Regions from separate parts of the Homo sapiens genome. Here region 1 is linked to region 2. Evidence: fine-mapped expression QTL. A gene starts in region 2. The other region holds a variant in brackets. All regions are shown on one strand. Distances are from middle to middle.

Region 1 (5,373 bases), 71 kb before region 2:
TTTCAAAATATATATAAAATATATATATATAATGTATACATTATATATAATATATACATTATATGTGATATATACATTATATATGTATACATTATATATAATATATATATTATATATATATATATGCCGGGCATAGTGGCTCACGCTTGTAATCCCAGGGCTTTGGGAGGCTGAGGCGGGTGGATCACGAGGTCAGGAGATCGAGACCATCCTGGCTAACAGGGTGAAACCCCGTCTCTACTAAAAAATACAAAAAATTAGCCGGGCGTCATAGCGGGCGCCTGTAGTCCCAGCTACTCTGGAGGCTGAGGCAGGAGAATGGCGTGAGCCCTGGAGGCAGAGCTTGCAGAGATAGCACCACTGCACTCCAGCCTGGGCGACAGAGCGAGACTCCGTCTCAAAAAAAAAAAAAAAAAAAAAAGAATCAAAGAGGAAATCAATAAAATTGAAAACAAAAAAAAGAGAGACCTATAAAATTGGTAAACTTCTAGCCAAATTGATTAGAATGAAAGAGAGGATACAAATTCAAGAGCAGAAATGAAAGAGATTATAGTACTACAAATTCCACAAGTATTTGAAGGATGATGAAGTAATATTATAAAACAATCGAGACCTGGACTGGCATGGTGGCTCACACCTGTAATCCCAGCACTTTGGGAGGCCGAGGCGGGCGGATCACGAGGTCAGGAGATCGAGACCATCCTGGCTAACACAGTGAAACCCCGTCTCTACTAAAAATACAAAAAATTAGCCGGGCGTGGTGGCGGGCACCTGTAATCCCAGCTACTTGGAGAGGCTGAGGCAGGAGAATGGTGTGAACCTGGGAGGCGGAGCTTGCGGTGAGCCGAGATCGCTACACTGCACTCCAGCCTGGGAGACAGCGCGAGACTCAGTTTCAAAATATATATAAAATATATATAATATTTACATTATAAGTAATATATACATTATATATAATATGTACATTATATATTATATATTATATATATTATATATATATATAGGCCGGGCACAGTGGCTCACGCTTGTAATCCCAGGGCTTTGGGAGGCTGAGGTGGGTGGATCACCTGAGGTCAGGAGGTCAAAAGCAGCCTGGCCAACAGTGAAACCTCGTCTCTACTAAAAATACAAAAATTAGCCAGGCGTGGTGGTCGGTGCCTGTAATCCCAGCTACTCGGGAGGCTGAGACAGGAGAATTGCTTGAACCTGGGCGGTGGAGGTTGCAGTGAGCTGAGATAGCACCATTACACTCCCACCTGGGCAACAGAGTGAGACTCCATCTCAAAAAAAAAAAAAAAAAGAAAAAAAAAAAAGAAAGAAAGAAAGACATATTGTCTATAAATTTGAAAGCCTAGATTAAATGCACAAATTCCTTGGAAGCCACAGACATTAAAAATGACTCAAGAAGAAACAGATAACTTAAGTAGCACTTTGTTTATTAAAGAAATTAAATTCGTAGTTACAAACTCACCCACAAAGAAAACTCCAGGCCCTGGTGCTTTCACTGGGGAATTCTACCAAACATTTAAATAAGAAATAATAACGATTTTACACAAACAAATCCATAAAATTGAAGTGAAGAGAATATTTCCCAGCTATTTCTATGAGGCTGCTATTATGCTGATATCAAAACCGAAGACAAGGCTGGGCATGGTGGCGGGCACCTGTAATCCCAGCTACTTGGGAGGCCGAGACAGGAGAATTGCTTGAACCCAGGAGGCAGAGCTTGCAGTGAGCCAAGATACTGCGACTGAACTCCAGCGCGGGAGACAGAGTGAGACTCCATCTCAAAATAATAATAATTATCATCATCCAAAGACATTACAAGAAAAGAAAATTAAGGACTAAAATCTCTAATGAATATAGATGAATTTTTTAAAGAAAAGTTTATAAAGATTAACTTATAAAGATTAATACATTATGACCTATAGGGGTTTATCTCAAGAAGGCAAGTTTGGCTTAGCATTCATTCAAAAATCGAATAAAATATGTCATGTTTAGTGGGTTGACTAGTGTCCCTCAAAAATGTATGTTGGCTGGGCGCAGTGGCTCACGCCTGTAATCCCAGCACTTTGGGAGGCTGAGGCAGGTGGATCACCCGAGGTCGGGAGTTCGAGACCAGCCTGACCAACATGGAGAAACCCCATCTCTACTAAAAATACAAAATTAGCTGGTGTAGTGGCACATGCCTATAATCCCAGCCTCCCGAGGGAGGCTGAGGCAGAAGAATTGCTTGAACCCAGGAGGTGCAGATTACAGTGGGCAGAGATTGTGCCATTGCACTCCAGCCTGGGCAACAAGAACGAGACTCTGTCTCAAAAAAAAAAAAAAAAAACAACTGTGTGTCAGCCGGGCACAGTGACTCATGTCTGTAATTCCAGCACTTTGGGAGCCTGAGGTGGGAGGCTCGCTTGAGCCCGGAGTTTGAGATGAGCCTGGGAAACATAGTAAGATGCTGCCTCTACAAAAAATTTAAAAATTAGCTGTGTGTAGTGGTATGCACCCGTGGTCTTGGCTACCTGGGAGGCTGAGGCAGGTGGATTGCCTGAGTCCAGGACTTTGAGGCTGCAGTGAGCTGTGATCGTGCCACTGCCCTTCAGCCTAGACAACAGAGCGAGGCCATGTCTCAAAAAAAAAAAAAAAAAAAAAAAGGTCATTTCCACCCAGAACCTCAGAATGTGACCTTATTTGGAAATAGTCTTTTTAGATGTAATTAGTTAAGGATCTCAGATGAAACTGTCCGGAATTTAGGGTGGTCCCTAAGTCCAATGACTGGTGTCCTTGTAAGGAGAGAAGTGACCACAGAGGCAAACAAGAAGGGCCGTGTGAAGGTGAAGGCAGACAGAGATCAGCGCTGCGCCACCATTACCCAGGGAAGGCCTGGGGCCACCAGACGCTGGAAACAGCAGGCAGGTTCTTCCCTGGAGCTTTGAGTGAGCATGGCCCAGCTGGCACCTTGATTTCAGATTTCTAGCCTCCATAACCATGAGAGAATCAATTTTTGTGTTTTAAAGACACCAAGTTTGTGGTAATCTGTTACCATAGGAAACTAGTACACCATATTAAGAAACTAAAAAAGAAAAATCATATAATCACCTCAATCAATTAAAGAAAAAGCATTTGACAAAATCCAACATCTACTCCTGATAAAAAACAAGTTTCAGCAAACTAGGGA[G/A]CTTCCTCAACCTGGTAAAGAGCGTATGGAAAACCTCCAGCTAACATAATATTAATACTGAAAGGCTAAATACCTTTTCCTACAACCAGGAATGTGGCAAAAATATTCACCCTCACCACCTCCACTCAGGATTGCACTGGAGGCTCTAGCCAGTGCAGTCAGGCATAAAAAAGAAATAAAAGTCATCCAAATTGGGAAAGAAGAAAAAAACAATGGTTTTATTCACAGATGGCATGATCCCCTATGGAGAAACTATGATGAAATCTACAAACAAAACAAAACAAAAAAAAACCCTACTAGAATTCATAACTGGGTTTAGCAAGATTGCAGAGTTCGAAATAAATATACAAAATTAATTATATTTCTACATATCAGGATTGAAAAATGAGATATTGAAGTTAAAGATAAACATCATTTAAAATAGCATTAAAATATGACAAATCTGAGAAAATATGTGAAAGGCCTGTGTATTCACACTACAAACCATATCTGAGAAAAATTAAAGACTATCTAAATAAATGGGGAGATATACTTCACTCATGTGCTGGAAGATTCTCTATTGCTAAGATGTTTGCTCTACCAAAGTTAATCTACAGATTCAGTGCCATCTCAGTCATAATCCCAGGAAGCTATTTAGTGAAAATTGACTAGGTGATTCTAAAATTCTTATGGAAATGTGAAGGACCTACAACAGCCAAGATAGCTTTTGAGAACAATGAAGGACTAACCCATACCAGATTTCAGGACTTTTAAACTTACAATGATCCAGACAGTGTGGTTATCAGCCTGAAGATACCATCTTTTCAGTTATTTGAGAATTTTTTCATATTTCATTTTAATTTTTTTTTTTTGAGATGGAGTTTCTGTCTTGTCACCCAGGCTGGAGTGCAATGGCACCATCTCGGCTCACTGCAACCTCTGCCTCCCAGGTTCAAGCAATTCTCCTGCCTCAGCCTCCCGAGTAGCCGGAAGTACAGGCGTGCCCACCACGCCTGGGTAATTTTTGTATTTTTAGTAGAGATGGGGTTTCTCCAGGTTGGTCAGGCTGGTCTCGAACTCCTGACCTCAGGTGATCCACCTGCCTTGGCCTCCCAAAGTGCTGGGATTACAGGCGTGAGCCACTGCGCCTGGCCTCCATTTTAATTTATCTATATGCTTCTGACATATATCTTTTTTATTTTATTTATTTATTTATTTAGACAGAGTCTCGCTCTGTTGCCAAGCTGGAGTGTAGTGGTGCCATCTCGGCTCACTACAACCTCCACCTCCCAGGTTCAAGTGATTCTCCTGCCTCAGCCTCCCGAGTAGCTCTCGATCTTTTGACTTCCTGATCTGCCTGCCTCAGCCTGCCAAAGTGCTGGGATTACAGATGTGAGCCACCGCGCCCAGCCTGTTTCTGATATGTATCTTTGCATGTTTTTTAGTGATCACACTAGGGATTGTGATTTGTATATACAACTTTTCACTGTCTGCTCAGAATCAACATTTTGACTTTAAATAGAATACAAAGACCTTCACCACACCCTCTCCTTTTACACCGTAGTTGTCTTATGTGTTGTATCTATTTGCATTAGGAGCCCCACCAGGTAATGCTATAGTTTATTTATTATTTATATGTTATTTATTATTTCTATTTTATTATTTATATATTATTTATTTATTACTTGGTATTTTACTTTAAGTTCCAGGATTACCATTTGACCCAGCGATCCCATTACTGGGTATATACCCAAAGGATTATAAATCATTCTGTTATGAAGACACTTGCACACATGTGTGTCAGGCCTCTGAGCCCAGGCTAAGCCATCATATCCCCTGTGACCGGCACCTATACATCCAGATGGCCTGAAGCAACTGAAGATCCACAAAAGAAGTGAAAATAGCCTTAACTGATGACATTCCACCATTGTGATTTGTTTCTGTCCCAACCTAACTGATCAATGTACTTGGTAATCTCCCCCACCCTTAAGAAGGTTCTTTGTAATTCTCCCCACCCTTGAGAATGTACTTTGTGAGATCCACCCCCTGCCTGCAAAACATTGCTCCTAACACCACCGCCTATCCCAAAACCTATAAGAACCATGATAATCCACCACCCTTTGCTGACCCTTTTCGGACTCAGCCCGCCTGCACCCAGGTGAAATAAACAGCCTTGTTGCTGACACAAAGCCTGTTTGGTGGTCTCTTCACACGGACGC
Region 2 (5,373 bases):
TAGTGGTGCAATTTTGGCTCACTTCAGCCTCCACCTCCCAGTTTCAAGCCATTCTCGTGCCTCGGCCTCTCGAGTAGCTGGAACTACAGGTGCACATTACCACACCTGGCTAATTTTTGTGTTTTTAGTAGAGACGGGTTTTGCTGTGTTGCCCAGGCTGGTCTCGAACTCCTGGGCTCAAGCAATCCCAAAGATCTCAAACTTTTGCCCCCCAAAGTGGTGGGATTACAGGCATGAGCCATTGCACCCAGCGTGCCTGGCTTTTTTTTTTTTTTTTTTTTTTTTTTTTTACTTTTTGTAAAGATGGGTCTCCCTGTTGCCCAGGCTGGTCTCCAACTTCTGGCCTCAAGCAGTTCTCCCACCTCAGCCTCCCAAAGTGCTGGGATGACAGACCCAAGCCACTGTACCAGGCCAAGTTCATCTTTTCTGCTGGTTTCCCTCATGTGCTGGAGCAGGTCATCAACGTCCCAGCCTGGGCCATATGCTGACCTCTGAACCACTGCCCAGGCTGTGTGGCCAGGCCCAGGCCATCAACCTCCCAGATGACTCTCAGAGGGTTCTCAAAGCAGGAGTGATGCTAGGCCGGCAGCTGCTACAGACACATCCCCATGGGTGGTAGTGTGCACTCATGCCGTTCCTCACCGTGGACCTGTGACTCCTCCAGGAGGATAAAGGACAGATTTGGACCCTGCTAAGACCCCAGGGCTCCTGGGGTCTTGGTGCTATCAGAGGGCCTGTTGACATCACCCTGTCCCCGCCTCAGTTACAACAGTGGAGGCCAGTCTGGGCCAAACAACCTGATCTCCACATTCAAGTTCTAGCCCTCATCCAGGGGACCTTTGCACTGCCTGCTGCTCCCTCCTTCCTGGCTTCGCTAGGCTCTGGACCACCTGCACCAGCGCAGCCCTGCCCAGTCCCAGGCAGAGCCTGGCACCCTCTCCACCGCTGGCCCAGCCCCCTCCTTGTATCCTACCTGGAATTTTTAGCTCTCTGTGTAACCACGAGCTTAGTGTCTGCTTCCCCTTCACTTGTAAGTGCCAGGAGGGCAGGGCCAGATCTGTTCTCATTCATCAATAAGTCTCTTGCACCTGCACCCTGACAGGTGTGAAGTGGGTTCTTAGGAATGAGAGAAGGAAGGAAGGAAAGCGACCCTGCATAGTGGAGGGTTGGGGGCAAACGCTGCGGCTCCTGAATCGCTCTGAGATTTCCCAACAACAGGACTCACCCAAGCCCCCTCCTTCGCTGTCGTGGAGCCTCAGTTTTCCCAACCCTCCAATGGCACAACCTCCTTCCCCCAGGGCTTGCAGAGTCGCGGTGAAACTAGGGAGGGATTATGTTAGAAAAATGCTCTAGACGAGATGTAAAAATCTTTTTTTTTTTACACGACTGAGGAGGATCCGTTTAGAATTTCAGGATTTTTTTAAGAAAAAAAAAAACTTCAAAGTGCGCAAACGTTGGGCCGGTTCTCGTGACCTTCCTCGGGAGACGAGGGGCCCAGAGTGCAGGGGGAACGGGAGGGACGGCCGGGAACCAGGGCGGAGAAACGCGGGCCTTGGTGCCTCACTGGGGGGTCGGATTCCGACCCCAGGCGTAGGAACCCCCGGGTCCCTCGCGGGCCTGCAGCGCGAGGCAGATCTGGGGAGGGGGCAGCTCGGCGCGGGTGGGGTCGGGGCTTCCTGGGGCGCCTCCAGCTTCGTTCACAACCTGCGGAACCCTCGCCTTCAAGCTCGGGCTCCGCGGCAAATCCCAGGGTCGAATTCTGCCACCGCCGCGGCGTCCGGTTTTGGCAGAGTCCTTGTCTGCCTCCGGGAGCCTCGGTTTTCTCGTCTCTCCGCCAAGCCCGGGCGTTCTCTCCACGCAGGGTGAGGGCCAGGCTTAGAGGTCTGCGGAGCTCTGAAACAAGCCTGTCACTCAGATGGGAGCGCGGCAGGAACAGCGGCTCACGCGGGTTTCCGGAGCGCGCGAGTGATGCCGGACCCCTCGCTCTGCCCCTTACGCGGCCCGTCTGACTTCTCAGCACCCCGTGGGAGGGAGCTTCCCTGGGTAGCCCCGTTTCACAGACGGGAAAGCGGAGGCACAGCGCGATCGGGCCCTGCCCGGCTTCCACGCCTACTCTGGTTGAGTCGGGGTCTGAACTCGGGCCGTTGGTTGCCCTAAGCCCCGCTCCGGGATCTGGCGCCCGGCGCCCCAGCCTTACACGCCCGACCCGCGCCTGGGAGCCGCCCCTCGGCCCCCCTCCCTGGCTCCTGGGGGCCGGGTCCCGTCGTTGTCACGACAACCGGGGGCCAATGGGAGCAGGCGGGCGGGGGAAGCCCCGCCCCTTCCCCGCCCCCTTCCCCGCCCTCTCGGAGGGCTCCGGGTTATAAGGGCTGGAGGCCGAGCGGACGGGAGCTGGAGCCCGCGGAGCCCACGGAGCCCACGGAGCCCACGGAGGAGCCCACGGAGGAGCCCCAGCGTCCGAACGGGCAGACCCCCTCGAGCCGCGAAGGAGCCCGAGAAGCAGCCACGATGTGCGGTGAGTGCCGCGCCCGCCCGAGCCGCCTCCTCCACGCCGTCCGCGGGTCCCGGCGCCGCAGCCTCTCCGCGCCTCCGCCCGCAAGCAGGCGCCGAGGACCTGGCTGGGGGCGCCGATCTGCCCCGGGCCCCTACCGAGGGGCTGTCGTCGGCCGGGCCTGGCTGCCCCTCACCCGCGTTCCCCGAGTGGCCGTCTCGGAGGTGTGGGTGGGGGATGCCCAACCCGACTCCTGGTCTCGGACACAGTGAGGGGGACCGAGGCCCGGTCCCCACGGAGGGGAGGGACCTGGTCCGGTCCGGCCTGGACCCCGTAACAGAGGGGTCCCCACCCCATGCCGACCGAGGTCGCTCTCCTCCACGTCTCCCAGTCGCCCACAAAGGCGGCCACGCGCAGGCCGGCGCATCCCGAGTGCGGGGCGCCCATCCCGACTCAGCCCGCCGCGCCCACCGAGGAGAGGAGAGGCGACCCCGCCCCGCCGTCCCCGCAGCCCGCCCGGTCGCCCCCGCTGCGTCAGTGCCTCAGGCAGGGCCTGCGCGTCCTCCTCGCGACCCCAAAGGAACGTCTGGTCCCTAGAAGGGTCGCTGCCGCGTTACCGCCTCTTTGCGCGGGGAAGAGGCAGTCACTGCCCGAACCTCGGCCCGAAGCCACGAGAGGGAGTCCGGGGCGGGGAGCGGGGCCGGGCGTCCGATTCCCGCGGCGCTCCCGCGCTGTCCCGCGTGGCTGCGGGACCGTGGGGAGGGCGGCCGCGGCCCGGAGCGCACATCTGCAATTCTTTACTCTCCTGGCTGGGCCGCCTCCGCTGGCCGGGAGAGAGCCGGGAACTTCTGCTGGGACAAAAGGTCACTGTGCTCTTTTTTTTTTTTTTTTTTTTCCTTGAGTAGGATTCGGTTACCCATTCCAGCCTCCTGTGGCTGGAGGACCTGGAGGAACTTTCGAAGCCATGAAAGGCCTCTCTCTGACTTTGCTGAGGGCCGGGGTGGGGTGCGCCCGCGGTGAGCCCTGGCCGAGGTCTGTGCAGGCCTCTTGTCTCGGAGGCCAGCTGCTCGGCAGAAGGGAACGACCTACGGCGGAGCGGGCAGCGTGCTTCGGGATGCCGCCTCACCCAGGCTGAACAGGCATCCGTGGAAATTCCTGAACCCTCAGCTAAAATCTCGTGCTCCCAGACGCCATTCTCCATGTGTAGAGCCACCTTTGGGTGTTTCTGGGGGCAGAGATGAGGCAAAGGTGGTAGTTTTGCCAGATGTCCAAGCCCTGATGTTCCACACCTCTCAGTGTAGCATTCAAGACCCTTGGCCAAAACTGGTGGCCTTGGGGCCAGACTTGTGCAGGAGACCCTTGAACCAGGAGGGTCTGCCCACAGCACCAGAGGCTCCCCTTCCCCTTCCTTTCAGATGCTCCTCTGCCCCCACTGCCACCCCTGCCTGTCATCCTCCTTCCTACTGGCATCTTGCTTTTTCCCAAGTCTCTCTGAGCTTTGGGGGGGCTCTACCTCCTCCAGCTCACAAAATCACAAGTGTTTTTGTTCTGCTTCTTAAAGGGACACACACGCGTTGTCTCCTAGGGAAAGGTTGAGCTTTGGGGTGTGACCACCTGTATCTTCAGATTTTCTGGTACTGACTTGTGGTTGTATGTGAGAAGGAGCTTGAGGTCCCCAAAGGACACCCAGGGCTCAGGAGTGGCTGCGGTCCATGGGGGTGCCCACTCGGAGCCAGAATCAAAGAGTGCGTGCTGGCTTAGGTGCCTTCTCAGAATTCCCAGATTTGCTGATTTGGGGCTGGGGGCAGGGTGGGGGAAGTGGGGAGGGCACAGCTCAGCAGGAAGTCGTGGAATCCCTGCATGGGAAAGTTATTTCCTTTTCAAGAACATCAGGAGAAAGTTTCAACTTGGTGCTAACGTGTCCTTAACATCTCTCTGACACTTGCTTAAGTATCCTGTGCAGAGGGGAAGCCATTCCTGGCTCAGAGCAGGCAGCAGCAGCTGGCTAGAATTGAATACATTGGTCTGTTTGGGGGGGATGATGGTCTGAGTATGTATGACAAGTGATACTGATTTTCCTTTTATGGTTGTTTTCTTTTGGCATGAATTCATTTAAATTTTTGAAAATTTAATCAAATTCTGCAGAAGAAAAAGTAGTGATTATGCTATTAGTACAAGGATACTGCAAGAATCGTGAAGATGCTCCTAGAAAGAACCAGATAAGCTCTTCACTTTACGCTGGGGAAGCTGAGGCCCTGCGAAGTCTGTGCGCACCTGGCGTCTGAGCAGGCCTCGGGTCTCAGATCTCCTGGGCCGTTCCCTCAGGGGCGGAGACCTAAGGCCCTTCCTTATCACTTGGCTGATGACACTGCTGAGATTATGTCTTGCTGTCCTTTATCCTGCTGCTTCTCTCATGGGAAGCCAGGACTCGGCAGTAGTTGATCCTCTACAAACAGCAGATGATTCTCAAAAACTTTCAGTGCACTGAGAATTTAGCTGAAATGACACTTTGGTTTTATTGACATCTGAAAGTTGCTGGCATTTTGCTGACTTTCTGCGACAGAAAATTTACAATATTTCCTCCCTGTCTCTCTCCTTTCCTTCTCTGCTTCCTTTTTCATTCAGCCACTAGTGGAAATGCCCAGTGTTTTCCAGGCCCTGGGGGACTCGAAGATCTCATGGGTGTGGTCCTCCCCTCAAAGAAGGGGCAGGTGAGCCGCAGGGCTAGTCCAGAGACTGGTCACCAGCAGGGACGGGATGCCGATCAGGGCAGTGCTGCTGTGGAGGGAGGACCTTGAGCACGGGCTACAGCCTGGTAGAGTACTGGCCGAACAGGGAAGACAGACATCTTTTTGTTTGGTGCACAGGGTTTAAACCTTTTC

What was found. PIP is the estimated chance that this variant, and not a neighbour inherited with it, causes the effect.
Region 1: its variant is fine-mapped to the expression of GFPT2 in cerebellum (GTEx, PIP above 0.99). The same link has a PIP of 0.9 or more in cerebellar hemisphere.

The regions. Positions count from the first base shown.
Region 1 is chr5:180,421,311-180,426,683 of GRCh38, reverse strand. No RefSeq gene overlaps it. Among named protein-coding and RNA genes, the nearest start is that of CNOT6, 70 kb to the left of the region's middle. RefSeq lists an enhancer at 2,344-2,843. The variant G/A (reference allele first, on the strand shown) is at 3,176.
Region 2 is chr5:180,350,353-180,355,725 of GRCh38, reverse strand. It overlaps GFPT2 (glutamine-fructose-6-phosphate transaminase 2), which reads left to right and starts at 2,390. Exons shown (of 19, transcript NM_005110.4): 1 at 2,390-2,515. The coding sequence starts at 2,509. RefSeq lists a silencer at 2,134-2,363 and an enhancer at 3,736-4,236.